Linked DNA regions of Homo sapiens: all the other regions are linked to region 1. The links come from fine-mapping of genetic effects on plasma protein levels. Region 1 holds a variant in brackets. A gene starts in each other region. All regions are shown on their reverse strands.

Region 1 (4,118 bases):
AAATCAGTGGAAACGTGACAATATGATTAAATTCTACCTAGAAATAGTTGTCTGCTGGAAGCAAAACCCTCGGCTTGGTTCTGTGAGTCATAAAGGGAAATGAGAAGCCTTTAAGAGAGGCACAAAGCCAATTAGCCATGCAAGACTCACTGATGGGGTCAGAGTGGTGTCACCTAAAGAGAGGACTGGGTCACCGGGACCCGAGGAATGGCCACAGAGGTGGACCCATGCTTAAAGCCTTGAGCCTTACATGCACCATGTGTGCATTTTACCACATCTATGTTATTTACATATATATATATATATATATATATATATATTTAATTTTACTTTAAGTTCTGGGATACATGTGCGGAACGTGCAGGTTTGTTACATAGGCATACCTGTGCCATGGTGGCTTGCTGCACCTATCAACCCATCATCTAGGTTTTAAACCCTGCAGGCATTAGGTATTTGTCCTAACGCTCTCCCTCCCCTTGCCCCCACCCCCTGACAGGCCCTGGTGTGTGATGTTCCCCTCCCTCTGTCCATGTGTTCTCATTGTTCAACTCCCACTGATGAGTGAGAACATGCGGCGTTTGGTTTTCTGTTCCTGTGTTAGTTTGCTGAGAATGATGGCTTCCAGCTTCATCCATGTCCCTGCAAAGGACATGAACTCATTCTTTTTTATGTCTGCAAGTTATATTTTAATAAAGACATTTCATATCTTTCAGGCTGGCAACGGCGGCTCATGCCTGTAATCCCAGCACTTTGGGAGGCCAAGGCAGGCAGATCACATGAGGCCAGGAGCTCAAAACCTGCCTGGGAAACATGGTGAAACCCCATCTCTACTAAAAATATAAACATTAGCCAGGCATGGTGGCAGGTGCCTACAGTCCCAGGTGCTTGGGAAGCTGGGAGGTTGAGGCAAGAGAATCACTTGAACCCAGGAGGCAGAGGTTGCAGTGAGCCAAGATCAAGCCAGTGCACTCTAGCCTGGGCAACAGAGCCAGACTCCGCCTCAAAAAAAAAAGAAAATTAGTATCTTTCAAAGACAGACATGTTAAAATTTTGGAAATGGAATTGGTGTAAGAAATCATTACATTGCTTTAGTCTCTTGACTATGATGGCAGATATAGGATGCTATGCATGTGACCAAATTGTACATAACTAAATACACACAAGTACAAGGAAAATGGGGGAAAATCTGAATAAGACTGGTAGTGGGTTCTATGAATGTTGTGAATGTTAATATCCTGGCTGTGATACTGCACTACAGGTTTGCAAGATATTACCATTGGGGATAATTGGGTAACGTTCACATGAGATCTCTCTGTATCATTTCTTACATCTTTATGTGATTCTTCAATTATCTCAACAAAAATTCCAATGGAAAAAAATGCACAGCATCAAGGAGAAAAAAAAAAAAAAAAAACACATGTTGGTACCAAACAGATGTTCTTGTCATAATCAGGAAGACGGAAAGGGAACTGAGAAGGAAACCACACTCCCAACCTTGGTTCAGGCTCCCTAGGCACTGCCTGTTGTTAACGCTTTGCCATGGCACCCACGACACGGGGGTCCCTGCGGAGAGCATCCCTTACTCCTCCCAGGGGATTCTACCAGCCACCTCTGGGCTCCGCCTTCTGCCAGGACCCGTCCTATTTCCCGCCCAGCTAGAAATAGATGTTCATGCAGCCTCCTGATAAGCTGGGCACTGAAACCCAGAGGAAGTGGCCTGCAGGGTGCCCACTC[G/A]TTTGGAAAAGGCAAAGGTCACACAGCTATAGAAGCCAGCTGGGACCACAATTCCTAGGAATGTCAGCAAGGAGTTGAGGTAGTCTGAGAACTGGCAGAAGAGTAAATGCAGACTTCCCTTTCAACAACAGCCTTTCATTTGATCACACACTTTTCTGACTTCCATCTGAAGCAGCACTGCATGTATATGTATTCTCGTTCTTTGAGTTTGCTAGTTTGTCTTTTTTTGTTTTTGTTTGCTTTTTACAGCAAGAGAAAGGTTCTCAAAATACAGACAACTACCTTAACTTGGATGGCCTGGAATAAATTCTAGAGTTGTAACTGATGTTGAGTCTTCCCATGGAGAACGCTGGTCCTCAACTTCCTACTAAGGACCTTTCGGCTTCAGAGAAAACCAAACAGGAGGAAAGGGAAGGGAAACCACATGCACAGAAACACTGAGTACATGCCCGTGTGCACAGCAGGGGTCCTGACACCTGTGCACTCATGTAAGGCTGAGATGACTGTCTTCCTTCCACAGGTGGGGAGGCTGAAGCAGAGAGAGTCACTGACTCATTCAAGGTCACAATGGTTGAGCCAGAACTTGAACCTGAATGGCCAGGCTCCAAAGTTTGCACTCGTTTTTGAGACATAGTGTTGCTCTGTTGCTGAGGTTGGAGTGCAGTGGCACAATCTCAGCTCACTGCACCTCAGCCTCCTGAGTTCAAGCGATTCTCCTGCCTCAGTCTCCTAAGGAGCTGGGACCAAAGGAGTGTGCCATCATGCCCGGCTAACTTTTGTATTTTTGTTGGAGATGGCGTTTCACCATGTTAACCAGGCTGGTCTCAAACTCCTCACCTCAGGTGATCCACCCACCTCACCCTCCCAAAGTGCTGGAATTACAGGCATGAGTCACCTTGCCCGGCCCAAAGCTTGCACTCTTAACCACTACCAAGGGAAGGATGAAACGAGAAGCCAAGATCCAAAGTGCTCTCCCCTGCAGACAGCAAAAACCTCTTGGCTCCACCAGTGGGAATACGAGTCCATGGCTGACACGTGGGCCAATACAGGGCACCAGGAGATCCACGATCCAGTCCCACTGCCACTACCTTACTGTGTGACCTTGGGAGAGTCATTTTACCTCCCTGGGCCTCAGTTTCCCCCTCTGAGAAATGCAGGGATTGGGTCAGCTGTGTCATTTGGATAGTCTCTAGGGTATGAAAACACTAGTTGACACCAATTCAGGATGAAAATGACTCTGGTCTTGTCCTTGGTGGCCCTGGAAAGAAAGTATAAACGGGTAATGTTGGGGGTTGAACTGCATCCCCCAAAAACATACATAGAAGTCCAGTCCCTGGTATGTGTGAATGTGGCCTTCTTTGGAAATAGGGTCTTTGCAGATGTAGTCAAGATGAGCTCATGCTGGATTAGGGTGGGTCCTAACCCAAGACTACTGTCCTTGTAAGAGGGAAATTTGGACAGAGACACACTCAGAGGGAGAGATGGGAGTGCCAATATCCACCAGCCAAGGGACACCCAGGGTCACCAGCAGCTACCAGAGGCCAGGAAGAGGAGAGGAAGGATCCTCCCCTAGAGCCTCCAGCGGGAGCACTGCCCTACCAACACCTTGATTTCAGACTTCTAAGCTCCACACTGCAAGGGAATAAGTACATTTCTGTTTTAAGTCCCTCATTTTGTGGCACTTGTGTTATGGCAACCACAGGACACTAATATAGGTAATAACATGGTTTTCCTATTATCTTCAATTATTATCATTATTATTATGATTATTATTATTATTATATTTGAGACCGAGTCTTGCTCTGTCGCCCAGGCTAGAGAGCAATGGCACAATCTCAGCTCACAGCAACCTCCACCTCCCAGGTTTAAGCGATTCTCATACCTCAGCCTCCCAAGTAGTGTCACCACACCCGGCGAATTTTTGTATTTTTGGTAGAGATGGGGTTTCGCCATGTTGGCCAGGCTGCTTTCAAACTCCTGACCTCAGGTGATCTGCCCGCTTTGGCCTCCCAAAGTGCTGGGATTACAGGTGTGAGCCACCACACCCGGCCATCTTCATTATTATTATAACAGCTACTTACTAAGTGTTAGCTGTACGTAAGGTAGTATATTAACTGCTTCACCTAAATTATCCCATTTCGTGCCAGCCACCCTACGACAGAGGAGTCATTATTATACCCATTTTGCAGACATAAAATTCTAAGGCTCAAAGCAGACAAGGAGCTTGTCCAAGGTCACACAGTGAATCAATAACAGAGCTGACACCAAACCAAGTAAGTGGCACCTGGAAGGCCACTTCCTCCTCTTTGGGTACCTCCACCTCCTCCCACTGAGAAAAACAGTGTTCATGACACCAGGAGGTGGGCAATGGGCCTTTCCCCTGC
Region 2 (4,112 bases), not on the chromosome of region 1:
GTAGGTTATCGCATTTAAAAACAGGACCTGAGAACTTGAGTAGACATAGTAGATAACTATTAAACAATAGGGAAAATTGGCTTGAAAACAAAAACATGATTTAAAAAATTACTATATTCATCTTTTTGATAGAGAGTAATTTTGAACATTTAGTATTTTAAGCATTTCTTCTAAAATTTAAGGATATGAAAAGTAAGAAAAGAATATGGAAAATTTAAATAATATTCTGTGAGACTTATACATAGTTGTAAAAGGAAGAAAACTTGTTGCCAGTGCCACTTACATCTGCCTCTTCTTTATTGACAATCTTCCAAATAAATTTAAATAGCATAGTTGCTTTGGGTCCTGTCGAGTTTGGCCTGGAATTGTAGGTGATTAGAAAGGATAGGGAAGCTTTCATGTGATACGTATTCATTGATTTATTAATTATTTAAGACCTACTTTATATTGAAGTATCCTACATGTTATAGGATACATGAGACATTCAAACAAACACAGGACATGCCACTCCCTACAAAAGTGCATGGTTCAATTGAGGAAGGAAGTCTTACAGATGGGACAGAGAACCAGAAAATAACATAAAGCCAACATGTAATGTGTAGGTCCACCTCTCTATCTTTGTAGGGATATAGCATTTCAGACCAAAACCTTTAATTTGGGTCTGAGAATTCAGGAACAAATATTTTCCTTGGTAAGGACATTTCTTGCACAATTTCTAATAGTGCAAAATTGGAAACACCGTGAAGGGCACCAACAAGGCAAGGTTGAGTAACTATTGTTCTTATCACAGGACGTCACATGGTCATTAAGAAGAATGGGGGAAAACTACATTAAGATGACCTGAAAAGATAAGGAACACATATTTTTTGAAGGATAAAAGTCAGCTGTATAGTGATCCATATACAATACTTCTATGTATATGTGTACCTCTATGTCTTAAACGTGTCTCATTGTATACATATACATGTGTGCATATAAGTGCAGACAGAATTGAAAACTAATGCAAAATTGTTACCAGTGTTTACCACTGAATAGTAGGAATGTGGAGAAATGATGAAGAGAAATTTGTGTTTTATTTCAAAGACATCTGCAGCATACGAATCTTTTGCAATAAATTATATAATTTTTCTGTTAAATTAAAAATAAAAAGAAAAATAAATATGCTGGGTCCTACTTTTTAGGTATTCTTAGGTGGTAGAAACAAGTAGCTTCTTTTGTAATATAAAGGAGGATGAGTTTCATTTGTAGTTTCTAGATGAAATTACAAAAGATAATATAGATTGAAGGCAGAAAGAATCCAATAAGCTAAAATCCAAAGACAACCTTTGACGGTAATTGGCTCTTATTTTACTTACATGCTCCAAACCAATCCCAATATTTATCAACATTCATGAAAAGAACATTTGCTTTCTTTGGCAAGCAAAGATAACTTTCTCTTTCAAGGGCCACATGTTTGTGCCTTCAGGTGCTCCTAAAGTTTCTATTAAGCCTAAAAACTGCAGTATAGAAAAGGCAGGGCGTATTGTTATAAATCATACAAAGAAAATGCATGTAGTATTTCAGTCTAGTTCTTACCTTCCTGAACGGAGTTCTTACACAGGTGTAAGGAAGATAAGTATTGAGAAAGGGAGAGTGGGAATGTGAAGTGATGCACATTAAGCAAGTTAGTAGGAATTTGACCTGTCTGGTCTTTCTCTGGGTTGGGCACAGCTTCAAATGCTTATGTGTGTATCACCACATACCCTCACTTCCTCCTTTCCTACCTCTTCCTTCTTACTGGCTTTGAGAAAGAGCATATAAATGACATCTTCAGGGCATGAGAAGCCACTTATCTGCAGACTTGTAGGCAGCAACTCACCCTCACTCAGAGGTCTTCTGGTTCTGGAAACAACTCTAGCTCAGCCTTCTCCACCATGAGCCTCAGACTTGATACCACCCCTTCCTGTAACAGTGCGAGACCACTTCATGCCTTGCAGGTGCTGCTGCTTCTGTCATTGCTGCTGACTGCTCTGGCTTCCTCCACCAAAGGACAAACTAAGAGAAACTTGGCGAAAGGCAAAGGTAGAGGCCCTGCTTCTCTGCACTTGTTGCTGCTTCTGCTACACCTGTCTCTGGGGTAAAGACTAGCTTGGTGCCTTTGGGGCTGGAGAGGGCCATTATACCAATAACTCCAATTGGAGGAGACACACAGGGGGGTCACTTCTCACTTCTTGTGTGCTGGGCAATCTTCTGGGCACTTTACTAAAGCGTTACAGATCATATTCACAATGGCTTTATGAGAGAGGTACAATTGCCCTCAATCTGCAAATAAGAGACCTGAGGAAAATATTCATGACCACCAATAGGTCACATTTTCTACCCTAGAGGAAAGTCTAGACAGTGACTTGTATGCTGAACTCCGCTGCATGTGTATAAAGACAACCTCTGGAATTCATCCCAAAAACATCCAAAGTTTGGAAGTGATCGGGAAAGGAACCCATTGCAACCAAGTCGAAGTGATGTAAGTTGCTGTTTCTGTGCTATTGCCTTATCAGAGAAACCCTCTACCTCCATCCACATATGCACTCGTTTCCTCCAGTCTCATGGATTAGTTCTGATATTCAGATCAGGACACCCACAGATAACCCTGTTCTCTTTTGCAGAGCCACACTGAAGGATGGGAGGAAAATCTGCCTGGACCCAGATGCTCCCAGAATCAAGAAAATTGTACAGAAAAAATTGGCAGGTGATGAATCTGCTGATTAATTTGTTCTGTTTCTGCCAAACTTCTTTAACTCCCAGGAAGGGTAGAATTTTGAAACCTTGATTTTCTAGAGTTCTCATTTATTCAGGATACCTATTCTTACTGTATTAAAATTTGGATATGTGTTTCATTCTGTCTCAAAAATCACATTTTATTCTGAGAAGGTTGGTTAAAAGATGGCAGAAAGAAGATGAAAATAAATAAGCCTGGTTTCAACCCTCTAATTCTTGCCTAAACATTGGACTGTACTTTGCATTTTTTTCTTTAAAAATTTCTATTCTAACACAACTTGGTTGATTTTTCCTGGTCTACTTTATGGTTATTAGACATACTCATGGGTATTATTAGATTTCATAATGGTCAATGATAATAGGAATTACATGGAGCCCAACAGAGAATATTTGCTCAATACATTTTTGTTAATATATTTAGGAACTTAATGGAGTCTCTCAGTGTCTTAGTCCTAGGATGTCTTATTTAAAATACTCCCTGAAAGTTTATTCTGATGTTTATTTTAGCCATCAAACACTAAAATAATAAATTGGTGAATATGAATCTTATAAACTGTGGTTAGCTGGTTTAAAGTGAATATATTTGCCACTAGTAGAACAAAAATAGATGATGAAAATGAATTAACATATCTACATAGTTATAATTCTATCATTAGAATGAGCCTTATAAATAAGTACAATATAGGACTTCAACCTTACTAGACTCCTAATTCTAAATTCTACTTTTTTCATCAACAGAACTTTCATTCATTTTTTAAACCCTAAAACTTATACCCACACTATTCTTACAAAAATATTCACATGAAATAAAAATTTGCTATTGACTTGTTGTCATCTATTATTAATTTTAACAGGATTGTTGGGGAAAAAAAGCTTTAATTTTCCTCTCTTTTTTGTATACTTGGTATTTCACAGTTTGAACAACAAAAGTTACTAAATTGATGATCGGTGTCATTCTTAATGTAGTATGATAACAGTTCCAATTTATTAATCATTTTAATATGCCAGGAATACTAAGTGTTTTCCATGCATGAACTAAACAATTTTTTAAAAGATAGATATGATCTGGTTAAAAGAACATCCTCTGGAGTTTGAATAATGAGGTAACCTGGCTCTGCCACTTGTTAGCTGTGTATATCAGGTCATGTTGCTTAATTTCTCTGTACCTTAGGTTCTTCATCCCTAAAATGGGGATAATATTGCCTCCCTCATAGAGTTTATGGAAGGATTAAAAAAGTTAATAAATTTAAGGTATTTAAAATAATGTGTGTCATAAATAAGCCACACATAAATGTTAGTAATTATTTCTTATGATTATTATTATCCTCCCCAGTGTTACAGAAGAGAAAAATCAAGTT
Region 3 (4,118 bases), not on the chromosome of region 1:
CTCCTCATGGGAGCTTGGCCTTTTCTCTTTCCTTCTCTGCCATGTCAGAGACATTCCTCTCTGGACTGGAATCACCACAGGCTCTCCTGCCTCAGACTCTCTGCGAGCACTCTGGACTGAAGGGAAGTGAGGCCATTTGGCCTCAAATTTCAACTCTGCCTCCTATTAAGACACCTTAGGCAAGCTCCTCAATCCCTCTAAAACCCAGTGCCCTCGCTTGTAGAAACAAATAAACAAAACAACCACTTCCCCTACTTTGCAAGGTTTTTGTGAGGTTGAAAGAAATAACATTCGTGGCCAGACATGGTGGCTCACGCCTGTAATCCCAGCACCTTGGGAGGCTGAGTGGGGTGGATTACTTGAGGCCAGGAATTCAAGACCAGCCTGGCCAACATGGCAAAACCCTGTCTCTACTAAAAAAAAAAGAAAGACAAAAATTAGTCAGGCATGTGGTGCATGCCTATAGTCCCAGCTACTTGGGAGGCTGAGGCAGAGAATTGCTTGAATCTAGGAGGCCAAGGTTGCAGTGAGCCAAGATTGCGCCACTGCACTCCCGCCTGGGTGACAGAGTGAGACTGTCTCAAAAGAAAAAAAAAAAAGAAAGAAATAACATTGTGAAGGTCCTTGGCCAGGTGACTGGCACATAGTAGGTCCTCAATAAACACTGGTTTCCTTCATCTAACGCCCAGCAACATGATGTCTCCATGAAGGCCAGGATCTTGCCTGGTCACCTCTGTCTCAGCACCCAGCAGTGGACCATATTCAACACTTAGTCCAGTGTTGAATACAGTTCACCTCTTCACACAACACGCCTGGGTGGCTTGTTAGTATGAAAATAACTTTCTTATAAGGAAATCAAAGAAAGCCTGATATGCATTGGCAAGACAGACATAAGCACATCACCAACTAGGGTGACCCGTCCTGGTTTGTTCAGGACTTTTTCAGTTTTTGCACAGAAAGTCCCAAGAAACCCCTCAATCCCAAGCAAAAACGGGAAGTTGGTCACCCAATCTCCCACTTCCACAAGGCCCAGCTTAACACATTAACTGATTTTCTCATGCTCCTGCTCCCAGTTTCCCATTCCTCACTCCCTTGTTCCCAAAGGAAGGAAGGAAAAAGAGGAAAAAAGGTGAGACGGGAGGAGATGGGAGTGAGGGAGAATGGCCTTTCCAGGCCCTTTTCTAGGTCTTACCCTCCAGATTAGGGCAATACGCCCCTCCCACCCATCCCCAGCTGCTGTAGTCTCTCTGACCACTGGTGCTTCCCCTGTGTCTGAGGTCAGATAGTTTATTAGGTTTATTACTCACACTTTGTCCCAGTTCCTCGAGCCCAATTCCACAGGGCAACATGAATGAGAGCCAGGTGCCTCCTGTGCAGGCAGTGAGTTTGGATCACAGGAGAGAAACCCCCAAATTAGGAGACTTGGAGTTTATATAGAGAATCTGGTATATCTTCCTCTCTGGAAGAGAGAGAGAGAGAGAGAGAGAGAGAGAGAAACGTTTACTCTGGAATGTAAATCTCCGGTGAAGAAGAGGAAGAATGCGAGCAAATCTCTGGACGTTGCACTCAAGGTATGTTTGCTATTCAATCACCCTTCAGCAAAACTTGGCCAATACCCTTTGCACAGAAGGACTAGAACATGCAGCAATGTGAAAATATTTGTGAAGAATTGTCTTCCAACAGAGAAGATAGAGCATTCATGAAACAAAAATAGTATGCCAGAATTTAAAAATGCTCAAAGAATAAGGAATATCTTGTCTTGTAAATTAAAAATATTAAAAAATAACATTTTAAAAGACAAAAATAGAAGGATGGAAGAAAATGAGGAAATCTCCTTGAAGGCAGAACAAAAGAGACAAAAAGATGGAAAATGAGATAGAAAAGATATGAAAATGAGATGAACACACGACATTCAATAACCAACTAGTTAAGGAATTGCAGAAAAATGGAAGGGGAGAAGAAAATGGACATGTAATTATCAAAGTAAGAATTTGTTTCCCAGAACTGAAGAATGTGGATCCAGATGGAAGGGTTCTATAGTGTCCAGGACAATAAATGAAGAAAGACCCAGTCCAGGGCACAGGATCAAGGTGAAACTTCCTGTTTGAGGTTGTACTGCATACAACCTCCTAAAAGCTTGGGTGGTCGTGGGGCACTCCCAAAGAATTGAGAGCAAGAATGGCATTGAGTGAGGTGCAGGGCACTCTACCTTCCTCCTTCATAGCTGTGCACCCTCAGATTCTGTATTAGGAAGATCCTGAAGATCATCTTTCCTCTTCCTCTCCTGTCCTCCAATTGTCACAATCCTCCCATCTCACCCCTTAGCCGGGCCCCAGCCCCTGCAGGCTTCTAGCTTTCTTCGGGTCTTCTCATCCTGTCTTGCCCACCCTTACCCTCAGGGCAGTTCCTGAGCACTGAGCCAACCAGGGCTTGGAAGAACTCCCTTTCCCCACCCCTGGAGGTGCCCATCATTTCCTTTCTCCCACCCCAAGTGACTTTCTGAGGCAGATGTTTCCTGCCCTCAGGCGAATGCTGCATCAGTGCCCAGGCAAGCCCAGGAGTTGACATTTCTCTGCCCAGCCATGGGCCTCACCCTGCTCTTGCTGCTGCTCCTGGGACTAGAAGGTAAGGTTCAGGAGGAGCTGCAGCTCTGGGCCCCATATGCTCAGCCCCATGTCCAGGAGTAACGTGTTATTGTGAATGCCACACCCATACCAGCAGCTGGGCTGGGAGATGCTCCCAGCTCCTGCCCAAAATTCCCACCTCCTTTCCTTCCCCAGGTCAGGGCATAGTTGGCAGCCTCCCTGAGGTGCTGCAGGCACCCGTGGGAAGCTCCATTCTGGTGCAGTGCCACTACAGGCTCCAGGATGTCAAAGCTCAGAAGGTGTGGTGCCGGTTCTTGCCGGAGGGGTGCCAGCCCCTGGTGTCCTCAGCTGTGGATCGCAGAGCTCCAGCGGGCAGGCGTACGTTTCTCACAGACCTGGGTGGGGGCCTGCTGCAGGTGGAAATGGTTACCCTGCAGGAAGAGGATGCTGGCGAGTATGGCTGCATGGTGGATGGGGCCAGGGGGCCCCAGATTTTGCACAGAGTCTCTCTGAACATACTGCCCCCAGGTGAGTTATCCTAGGCCAGCTACCACCCCTTAGACCTACCCTCCCCACCCCCGCCTATTGCCAGGGCTCATGGGTTCTTGAGGAGTGGGGGCCCCTGGGGAGGAGGCATTCCAAGGAGATATCCTCTTGACAGCTCTGCAGGGAGCGGAAACCAAACTGGGTGGGAAGTCTGAGATAAATCAGCTGAAAACCATCCCTTTCCCCCTTCCACACTACTGCGCTTCCCCACAGGAAGGCATGTCCTTCCCACTCCAGGGACTTGGCCTCTTCTTCCAGCATTTTCAACATACTTGATGCTAACTTATTTTTTAATTAGAAATATTTTAAACAATGTTGAATCTGAGTGTATAAAACCAGAATTAATTTTTGTAGCTTCCAGTGTTTTATTCCTGTAATAGCGGGCTTGATGGCTTAAGAATTATGGAATTCATACCTTAATTAATTTTATAAGTCTTCACAGGCCATCTAGTATGTCTCACCTACAAGTAGGTACATTCAGTGCCTGAACAACTTCAACTCCTTTCGTTTTAAAAATGGAAAAATGTCATTAATATTTTAAGCCAATATTCTTGACCCTATTTTCAGTATTAAAGACACTGTTTTTGCAGGTTTCATTCCCACAGCCCATAACTTTTCTAGTATATAAGCATTTGTTAAAAGAAAATTTTAAAATATTAAAAACTTGGGTTTTTTTTTTTAAGAAAGATAGGATGTTCTAAAAATAAAAAATGGTCAGCTACCTGAAGCACAGACAGCCACTCCTTTTCTTTTATGGATACTGGCCATTTTTTCACCTTTAGGTCTTCCTTTTCTCATATTTTATGCCCAACCCCCAAATAATAAAATTAAGTAGAGCATTTTCCCTTCCCTTGTTTTTTGTTTTGTTTGAGACAGGGTCTCACTCTGTTGCTCAAGCTGGAGTGCAGTGGCACTATCGGCTCACTGCAACCTTGGCCTCTCGGGTTCAAGTGATTCTTGTGTCTCAGCCTCCCAAGTAACTGGGAC
Region 4 (4,118 bases), not on the chromosome of region 1:
TTATCTCATGTGATTCCCCACAAAAAAATCCTAAAAGCAGTGGGCGAGGGTATTATTTCCCAGAGATACTCTAAAGTAACTCAGCTATTAAGTTGGTAGCATGGATATGAAATGAGGCTTGTTTGTTTCTAAAACCTGTGGTTCCTTCCACTCTGTGACACAGTCTCCCCAACTTATTGTTTCTATCCTGGGTTTCATGTTTATTGGGTACAACCTACCTCAATGAAGGCACTTCTGAGCCACCAGAGGTGGCAAGGAAAACAAGGCATAGACTTGCTTGCCAGCAGGAATCAGACTATTCTGAGATCCTAGAGCCATCCATAAAAGCTCATTTTTGTAATTTCTTGGGTTCTGCTTCAGCAACCTGGGTTCTTCTTTCCTAGCTTCTGGCTGCCTGATAGATCGGCCCAACCATCACCCCTCACATCCCATGCAAATGACAGTGCCCAACTCTAGATATTTGCCAACTACTCCACGGAAAATTCTCCCACCCCAAAGAGAGTCCAGTCCATTTGACATAACTGTATACAGAAGTTTTACTTCTGTCTCCAACAGCTGAGTCTGAGGTTCATGGGGCCATTTTTGTCATTTGTCACCCTCTTTTTGTTGCTGTTCTCTAGGACTATGTCATTAGCAGATCAGAGAAAGACGCCTCATTCATACACAAGAATTTGCTGAGTACACACTGTGGAAGCAGGAATGTCCTAGGTGCTGGGAACATAGAGATCACTAGGATTAAGTCTTTATTTCAAATACCCTAGAGTTCTGCTCACCTGTTACAAGGAGTGCTACCTGAGAACAGAGTCCAGAGATTCTGAGCAAAAGCACCTGATTTCCTCATCGGGAACTTCCTTAATGGGAGAGCCAGGACAGCAGCCTAGCTTTGGCAGTTTGGCTCCATTCTGCTCTCTTTATTCAAACTATTGCCTATTGTGTACTGTCTTCCATAGGTGTCTCTTCTGGAAACTGTACTGTGTTTTCCCCCTCAATCTACCTCTTTTTAAAAGCCAGACGCCATCTCAAAAGGGCAAGCTGATAAAAATGGAATGTCGGGGCAGCTATAACCTCTCATCAACAAAGGCGGCTGCCGTGTCTAAGCAGCAGGTTGGAGGCTCACCCAAGGATTAAATAAATGAATTAACAGTTAGAGAGAGAATGTTTTTCAGGCAATATCCTTTGGCAGGATTGTAATTCGCATTCAGTCAAGCTCCCATTTCCCCTTGGCAAAAAATTCATTTAATATGAGAGGACAGTGTGGCTTATTTACCCATTATCATATTTGGCAGTTCTTAAAGTTGCAATGCACCTGTTACTAAAACTCCGGAGTTGTGTCAGAGCCTCAGAAACAGTAAGAGTGGGGAGAAAGTGAAGGAGGTTGAAATTGAAATTTAGGTTAATTTTCACAACTACCTTTGTTCACAGTTCCCTTTCCATTTTTCACTAATTTTTAGAACTTCTGAATTCTTACAAGTTATCAGAAGGAAGGATTTTTTTCTTTGTGGCTTAAGAGTTTCAAACAGACAAACAAAAAATCAACCATCTGTTTCCCTAATTTCCAAGCAATTAGCCAGGTGTTAATTACTCCTCTTGTCAGAGTAAAAGCTGAAGCTTCCATGAAATGTTCTGCTAGTTTAAAATGAGGCATATTCATTCACTTATACACAGAAGTACAGTTTGAGAGTTATGAAGTTTTATAGTTGGTAGCAGATTAGCTCTAATGGCCAGTAAGAAAATAAACATGCATCAGAAAACAAAAATTAAGCAACTATACATACCCAAAGACAAACTTTGTTAAATGCCCAAGTATACCAGATTGAACCAACAGGGATGTGGGGGCAGTTTCCCGGAGACCTGGAGCACCTTTTCATTGGAGTACTTACCCACACAAGTAGAATTCCCATTTCCTGCGAGAGTACCTTCAGGACAGCTCCAGTGCTGCGGTGCTGAGAGACTAACAAAACTAAATTTTGAAACTACTGGCAACAGAATGATAAGAGTGAGCAGCATAATCTTGATGAGTTTGAACTTTCAAAAGAAAACAGCTTGATTTTGCTGGAGCATGGCCCGGGCAAGGTGAGTATGATTGACCCCAGATGCGGCTGCCTGAGCGGAGGCCTCAGCCCTGGGGCATCTTTTACTCTCCTGTTGTGCTGTTGTCCTCCAAGCTCTTTCTTCAACTGAGAGACCTTCTGAATGCAGCCTGCCAAGGGAAGCCACAGGAAAGATTTCTTTATCTATGTTTCTTTGGAAGCCAGTAAGAAATACCTGACACCCTTATGACAAATTTCACAGAGTTTAACAGCCCTGCTCTGGCTGACTTCACTGTGACAGAGCAAGGCAAAGGCTTAGAGAGGAAAAAGAAAGGAAGAACTGATGGAAAGTTCCAGCTACAACCCTTGGATTGGGGCTGAAAGAAGAAATATGGAGATACGATTCCTCTCCCAACAGTTTCTCTTTTTGAAAAGTGGAATGACTCAGCTTTGCTTTTTAAAGCTCTTCAGGCTCCACCTCCTTTCCTTTAGTGACACTTGAGTGAGCCTCTGTTTGCAAATGCGAATGTGGGCAATTCCTCCACACAGGAAAGCAGGGATGACTGCCAAAGAGGAGATAACTCGCTACTCACCATAAATATCCTGGGCAGAACTGGGAGAGAGGAGTTGGGGGCTGTGGAGGTGCTCATGGTGAATGGCGGGAACTGCTAAATATTGGCTATGTTTTAATGTCTGGAAGGATGGAGACAAAATTAAACCATGCAGTATAAATCAATAATAAGCAGCACTGTTGATAGTTTGGATTGATAATAATTGATCATTCACATGAGCAATAGTAAAGATAGTTCACCTTCAGCCCATTATTTGAACGAAATGTCAATACCAGTGCACATTCCAGGAGCTTTATCTTATTTTTCTCTTTCTCCTGTATAGTTTATAGCGGAATTTGAAAGATTATTCTTTCCAAATCAAAGGGAAATCCCTGAGGCCAAATGAAGAGATACAGTATGGACAGACACCTTTTCTTTCAGCATGAGCATGATAAAACATCACGAGGGGCCAGGAGTGCAGAGAAAGGAGTGGATTGTTATTATAGGGACATTGGAAAAAATAAGCTAACAGTGCAAAGCTGGGAAGCACTGGAAATCCAGCACAGAGGAATGCTTTTCCTTCTAAGATAATTTAGGCTTTTTTTTTTTCACATCTCTGTGATAGAAAATAAGAACTGGACGTATCTGTTAGCTGTCTCCTCAACCACTTTCTACTTGGAGCAACAGTGGTTATTTCTTCAGGAGTACAACTAGGGCCCAAAAATACCCAGAAGGCAAACAACTTATAGCAGATTTGATGCACGATGGAAATTTCTGTCAGTTTACTCCATCCTGGAAAATGGACTTTCATTTAAGTTACCCTGAGGTAGTGTTCCAAGTGCTGGTCAAAAATGTACGTAAAAGCAATAGTCACAAAAACAACTGTCACACTAGTGAACACCCCATTACAGAGGAGAACAGACTAACTCTAAGCCTTTTACTCATACTTAATTATGTCCTGATTATTCTCCAAAGACTGGATCACTTTCCTGAAACAGCTTAAGTCAGGATTTCTCCTATTTCAGCCAGCCTCTGCCAGGCAGCTCTGAACCCTTACAGGAGAAACAGACCCTGGGGAAGGGGGAAAGAGAAGTCCTTTAGGTGGTTATGCGGAATATTCCATTGCTTTCTGGACTGAGTCAGACTCAAGACTCATAATGAGCATCCTACAAATAACCTGCACTGACTCTTCGAGTTACTAACTTTATTAATAAGCTTCCCTTTCAGCACAATACATTGCCAGCATCCCAGATGACAGCAATGGAAGGGGCTTAGAGGACAATCAAGCATCACGCTGTGTCAGTGGAGTGGAGTGGAGAGAATGATATGAAGACAAACATGAAATGATCCACAGCTCTGTTCTGTTTGGATTTGGAATCTCTCATATTATTTTTGGTTGGAAAAAGGTTTGCTTTCTTAATTACATGTCACCTGGGCTAATGTTGTCATTAATGTTGAGTACAAGCTCCCTAGGAGATGACGGAGTCAACAGAGGTATAGCAGATGCTATGGCTGATGACTGATGATGAAAATCAAT
Region 5 (4,110 bases), not on the chromosome of region 1:
GGAGGGAGGAGGGCGCGGGAGCGGGCGGAGGGAGGGAGGCGGGAGTGCGGAGGGCGGAGGGCCGGGCCGGGGGCGGTGCGGCGGGAGGGGGCCGGGGCCGGGGCCGGGGCCGGGGCAGTGCCGCGAGGGGCTCGTCGGGCGGCCGCAGAGTCGGCGCCGGGCCGGGCGGGGCGGGAGGAGCGGCCGGGAGGAGCGCGGGCGGGCGGGCGCTGACCCGGGCCGTACGCGGCTCTACTGCCCCGGGCGCCGGCTCCGGCCCGTTTTATGCCCCGCGCCCGACGCCCCGGCCGGGGGCCTCCTCCTCAGCAAACGGGGCGGCGGCGGCAGCTCGGCGAGGGGCCGGGCTGAGCCCGGGGGGTCCGACCCAGCAGCAGCGGCCCGGATCGCGGGTGGGGGAGGGGAGGGAGGGGCTGGGACCGGGCAGGGGAGGAGGGAGGGGCGGGAGGGGAAGGGGGAGCGGGGGAGGGGGAGGGGAGGGACCAGGGGGCGCGAAGAGGGGGAGGAGAGGCGGGCCCGGAGCCCCCCGCTGCTGGCGGCCACAGGGCGGCTGGACCAGGAGGTCGGTGTCCAGCCCAGGAAGGGAGCCTCAGGCTAGGGAGGGGCAGAGGCTAGGCCTGAGGCCTGGACCGCTCTGTGAGCGAGGACCCGGTTCCGCCCGAAGGATGAAGACTTGTCTTTAAAGATGACAACGTACAGGAAAGGTCCATCAGCCGATCTCCCCCTGCCTGGGCCCACAGCGCCCCCCAAACCCTCACCACCCTCTCTCACTGCCTAGCCTGCCTCCCTACCTTCTCTCTGAGGTCGCTCCTCATTCTTGTGTTACCCAGGACAGGGACCTAGCCAGAAACCGGCAGCATTCCCCCTTCTGTGGAGTGACAGTATCTCCCTCTCATTGTAACTTATCCTCAGGCGCATTCGACAGTCCCCTCTTGCTTTCTCACCCCCTTCCTTCACCCAAGGGACCCTCTGCCTCTCCAGCCCACTCCCAGCCTCCTTTCTCTTGGTTCCCTGGTCATGCCTGCCTCCCTGTCTCCTGTCTCTCCCTCCCACACACACCCACTATCCTCCCAGCTATCCCAGCACCCTCCTTCCTAATCTTGGGAGACATCTCGTCTGGCTGGACGGGAAAATTCCAGGATCTAGGCCACACTTCTCAGCAGACATGCCCATCCTTGGGGAGGAGGAACAGGAGAGAGCCTGAGGAAGTTCTGGGGGACAGGGGGATGATGGGATCAAGGTCAGGCCAGGAAGCCCCTGAGGACAGAGACTGTGGGGAGACTGGGACTGGGAAGAAAGCAAAGGAGCTAGAGCCAGGGCCAAAGGAAAAGGGGGGCCAGCAGGGAGGTATTTGCGGGGGAGGTCCAGCAGCTGTCTTTCCTAAGACAGGGACACATGGGCCTGGTTATTCCTCTTGTCACATGTGGAACGGTAGGAGATGGAAGACGGAGACAGAACAAGCAAAGGAGGGCCCTGGGCACAGAGGTCTGTGTGTGTAGCCATCTAAGCCACTGGACCCCAGCAGACGAGCACCTAAGCTCAGGCTTAACCCAGTGCACGTGTGCGCACATACATGTGCCCCGCACCTGACAGTCCACTCAACCCGTCCAAACCCTTTCCCCATAACACCAACCCATAACAGGAGATTTCTCTCATGTGGGCAATATCCGTGTTCCCACTTCGAAAGGGGGAATGACAAGATAGGACTCCCTAGGGGATTACAGAAAGAAAAGCAGGAAAGCAAGCATCCTGTTGGATTTCAGCAGCAGGTATGATGTCCAGGGAAAAGAAATTTGGATAGCCAGGGAGTGAAAACCCCACCAATCTTAAACAAGACCTCTGTGCTTCTTCCCCAGCAACACAAATGTCCTGCCAGATTCCTCCTGGAAAAAAACTTCTGCTCCTGTCCCCCTCCAGGTCCCAGGTTGCCCATGTCCAGGAAAAGATGGATCCCCCTATCCAAATCTTCTCCGTGGTGTGTGTGGGTGGAGGAGTGGACCCTGGTCCAGGCAGGGGCTCCAGGGAAGAGAAGGCGTCACTTCCGGGGGCCTTCACCAGTGTCTGGTGGCTCCCTTCTCTGATTGGGCAGAAGTGGCCCAGGCAGGCGTATGACCTGCTGCTGTGGAGGGGCTGTGCCCCACCGCCACATGTCTTCCTACCCATCTGCTCCCCAGAGGGCTGCCTGCTGTGCACTTGGGTCCTGGAGCCCTTCTCCACCCGGTGAGTGGCCAGCAGGGTGTGGGGTTATGTGAGGGTAGAAAGGACAGCAAAGAGAAATGGGCTCCCAGCTGGGGGAGGGGCAGGCAAACTGGAACCTACAGGCACTGACCTTTGTCGAGAAGAGTGTAGCCTTCCCAGAATGGGAGGAGCAGGGCAGAGCAGGGGTAGGGGGTGGGGTGCTGGTTTCTGAGGGACTGATCACTTACTTGGTGGAATACAGCACAGCCCTGGCTGGCCCTAAGGAAAGGGGACATGAGCCCAGGGAGAAAATAAGAGAGGGAGCTGCACTTAGGGCTTAGCAAACACAGTAGTAAGATGGACACAGCCCCAATCCCCATTCTTAGCTGGTCATTCCTCGTTAGCTTAAGGTTCTGAATCTGGTGCTGGGGAAGCTGGGCCAGGCAAGCCAGGGCGCAAGGAGAGGGTAATGGGAGGAGGGCCCACTCATGTTGACAGACCTACAGGAAATCCCAATATTGAATCAGGTGCAAGCCTCTTTGCACAACTTGTGAAAGGAGGAGGAAGCCATGTGGGGGGTCCTGTGAAGGAACCGGAAGGGGTTCTGCCAAGGGGGCAGGGAGGCAGGTGTGAGCTATGAGACAGATATGTTAGTGGGCGCCTAAGACAAGGTAAGCCCCTAAGGTGGGCATCACCCAGCAGGTGCCCGTTCCTGGGCAGCTGGTCTCAGGAAGGAAGTCCCAGAACTGTTAGCCCATCTCTTGGCCTCAGATAATGGAGTATTTCAGGACTTGGAGTCCAGAGAAAAGCTCCAGTGGCTTTATGTGTGGGGGTAGATAGGGAAAGAATAGAGGTTAATTTCTCCCATACCGCCTTTTAATCCTGACCTCTAGTGGTCCCAGTTACAGCTTTGTGCAGTTCCCCTCCCCAGCCCCACTCCCCACCGCAGAAGTTACCCCTCAACATATTGCGCCCGTTTGCCAGTTCCTCACCCAGGCCCTGCATCCCATTTTCCACTCTCTTCTCCAGGCTGAAGCCACAATACTTTCCTTCTCTATCCCCATCCCAGATTTTCTCTGACCTAACAACCAAGGTTGCTCAGAATTTAAGGCTAATTAAGATATGTGTGTATACATATCATGTCCTGCTGCTCTCAGCAGGGGTAGGTGGCACCAAATCCATGTCCGATTCACTGAGGAGTCCTGACAAAAAGGAGACACCATATGCTTTCTTGCTTTCTTTCTTTCTTTCTTTCTTTCTTTTTTTTTTTTGAGACGGAGTTTCACTCTTATTGCCCAGGCTGGAGTGCAATGGTGCGATCTCGGCTCACCACAACCTCCGCCTCCCAGGTACAAGCGATTCTCCTGTCTCAGCCTCCCAAGTAGCTTGGATTACAGGCATGAACCACCACACCCTGCTAGTTTTTTTGTATTTCGTAGAGCCGGGGTTTCACCATGTTAGTGAGGCTGGTGGCGAACTCCTGACCTCAGGTGATCCACCCGCCTTGGACTCCCAAAGTGCTGGGATTACAGGCATGAGCCACTGCACCCGGCACACCATATGCTTTCATCACAAGAAAATGTGAGAGAATTCAGGGCTTTGGCAGTTCCAGGCTGGTCAGCATCTCAAGCCCTCCCCAGCATCTGTTCACCCTGCCAGGCAGTCTCTTCCTAGAAACTTGGTTAAATGTTCACTCTTCTTGCTACTTTCAGGATAGATTCTTCACCCTTGGCCCGCCTTTGCCCCACCCTACTCTGCCCAGAAGTGCAAGAGCCTAAGCCGCCTCCATGGCCCCAGGAAGGATTCAGGGGAGAGGCCCCAAACAGGGAGCCACGCCAGCCAGACACCCCGGCCAGAATGGAGCTGACTGGTGAGAACACACCTGAGGGGCTAGGGCCATATGGAAACATGACAGAAGGGGAGAGAGAAAGGAGA

Which allele goes with the higher level. Alleles are on the strand shown, and positions count from the first base shown. The strength of an association depends on the size of the effect and on how common the allele is.
As copies of A replace G in region 1, the plasma level of the protein whose gene starts at base 1,827 in region 2 goes up (weak association).
As copies of A replace G in region 1, the plasma level of the protein whose gene starts at base 2,524 in region 3 goes up (weak association).
As copies of A replace G in region 1, the plasma level of the protein whose gene starts at base 2,460 in region 4 goes up (weak association).
As copies of A replace G in region 1, the plasma level of the protein whose gene starts at base 2,085 in region 5 goes up (weak association).

Evidence for each region. A credible set is the group of variants that fine-mapping cannot tell apart. PIP is the chance, under the fine-mapping model, that this variant and not a neighbour inherited with it causes the effect. The UK Biobank Pharma Proteomics Project read protein levels with antibody pairs (Olink). The fine-mapping took linkage between variants from a reference panel, not from the people measured, so its PIPs are less certain.
Region 2: PPBP starts here. The variant in region 1 is the best candidate, but not a certain one, in a credible set for the plasma level of the PPBP protein (UK Biobank, PIP 0.79).
Region 3: it holds the start of TREML1, and the variant in region 1 is the best candidate, but not a certain one, in a credible set for the plasma level of the TREML1 protein (UK Biobank, PIP 0.78).
Region 4: it holds the start of EGF, and the variant in region 1 is the best candidate, but not a certain one, in a credible set for the plasma level of the EGF protein (UK Biobank, PIP 0.76).
Region 5: it holds the start of THPO, and the variant in region 1 is the best candidate, but not a certain one, in a credible set for the plasma level of the THPO protein (UK Biobank, PIP 0.57).

The regions. Positions count from the first base shown.
Region 1 is chr16:81,834,981-81,839,098 of GRCh38, reverse strand. All of the region lies in intron 2 of PLCG2 (phospholipase C gamma 2), which reads right to left. Among named protein-coding and RNA genes, the nearest start is that of PLCG2, 58 kb to the right of the region's middle. RefSeq lists an enhancer at 1,927-2,116. The variant G/A (reference allele first, on the strand shown) is at 1,735.
Region 2 is chr4:73,985,905-73,990,016 of GRCh38, reverse strand. PPBP (pro-platelet basic protein) reads left to right here and starts at 1,827. Exons shown (of 3, transcript NM_002704.3): 1 at 1,827-2,061; 2 at 2,365-2,500; 3 at 2,643-3,578. The coding sequence starts at 1,914. The coding sequence ends at 2,745.
Region 3 is chr6:41,152,753-41,156,870 of GRCh38, reverse strand. TREML1 (triggering receptor expressed on myeloid cells like 1) reads left to right here and starts at 2,524. Exons shown (of 6, transcript NM_178174.4): 1 at 2,524-2,625; 2 at 2,781-3,113. The coding sequence starts at 2,583.
Region 4 is chr4:109,911,225-109,915,342 of GRCh38, reverse strand. EGF (epidermal growth factor) reads right to left here and starts at 2,460. Exons shown (of 24, transcript NM_001963.6): 1 at 1,881-2,460. The coding sequence starts at 2,007.
Region 5 is chr3:184,376,182-184,380,291 of GRCh38, reverse strand. It overlaps THPO (thrombopoietin), which reads left to right and starts at 2,085. Exons shown (of 6, transcript NM_000460.4): 1 at 2,085-2,217; 2 at 3,888-4,045. The coding sequence starts at 4,033. CHRD (chordin) reads right to left here and starts at 238. Exons shown (of 23, transcript NM_003741.4): 1 at 1-238.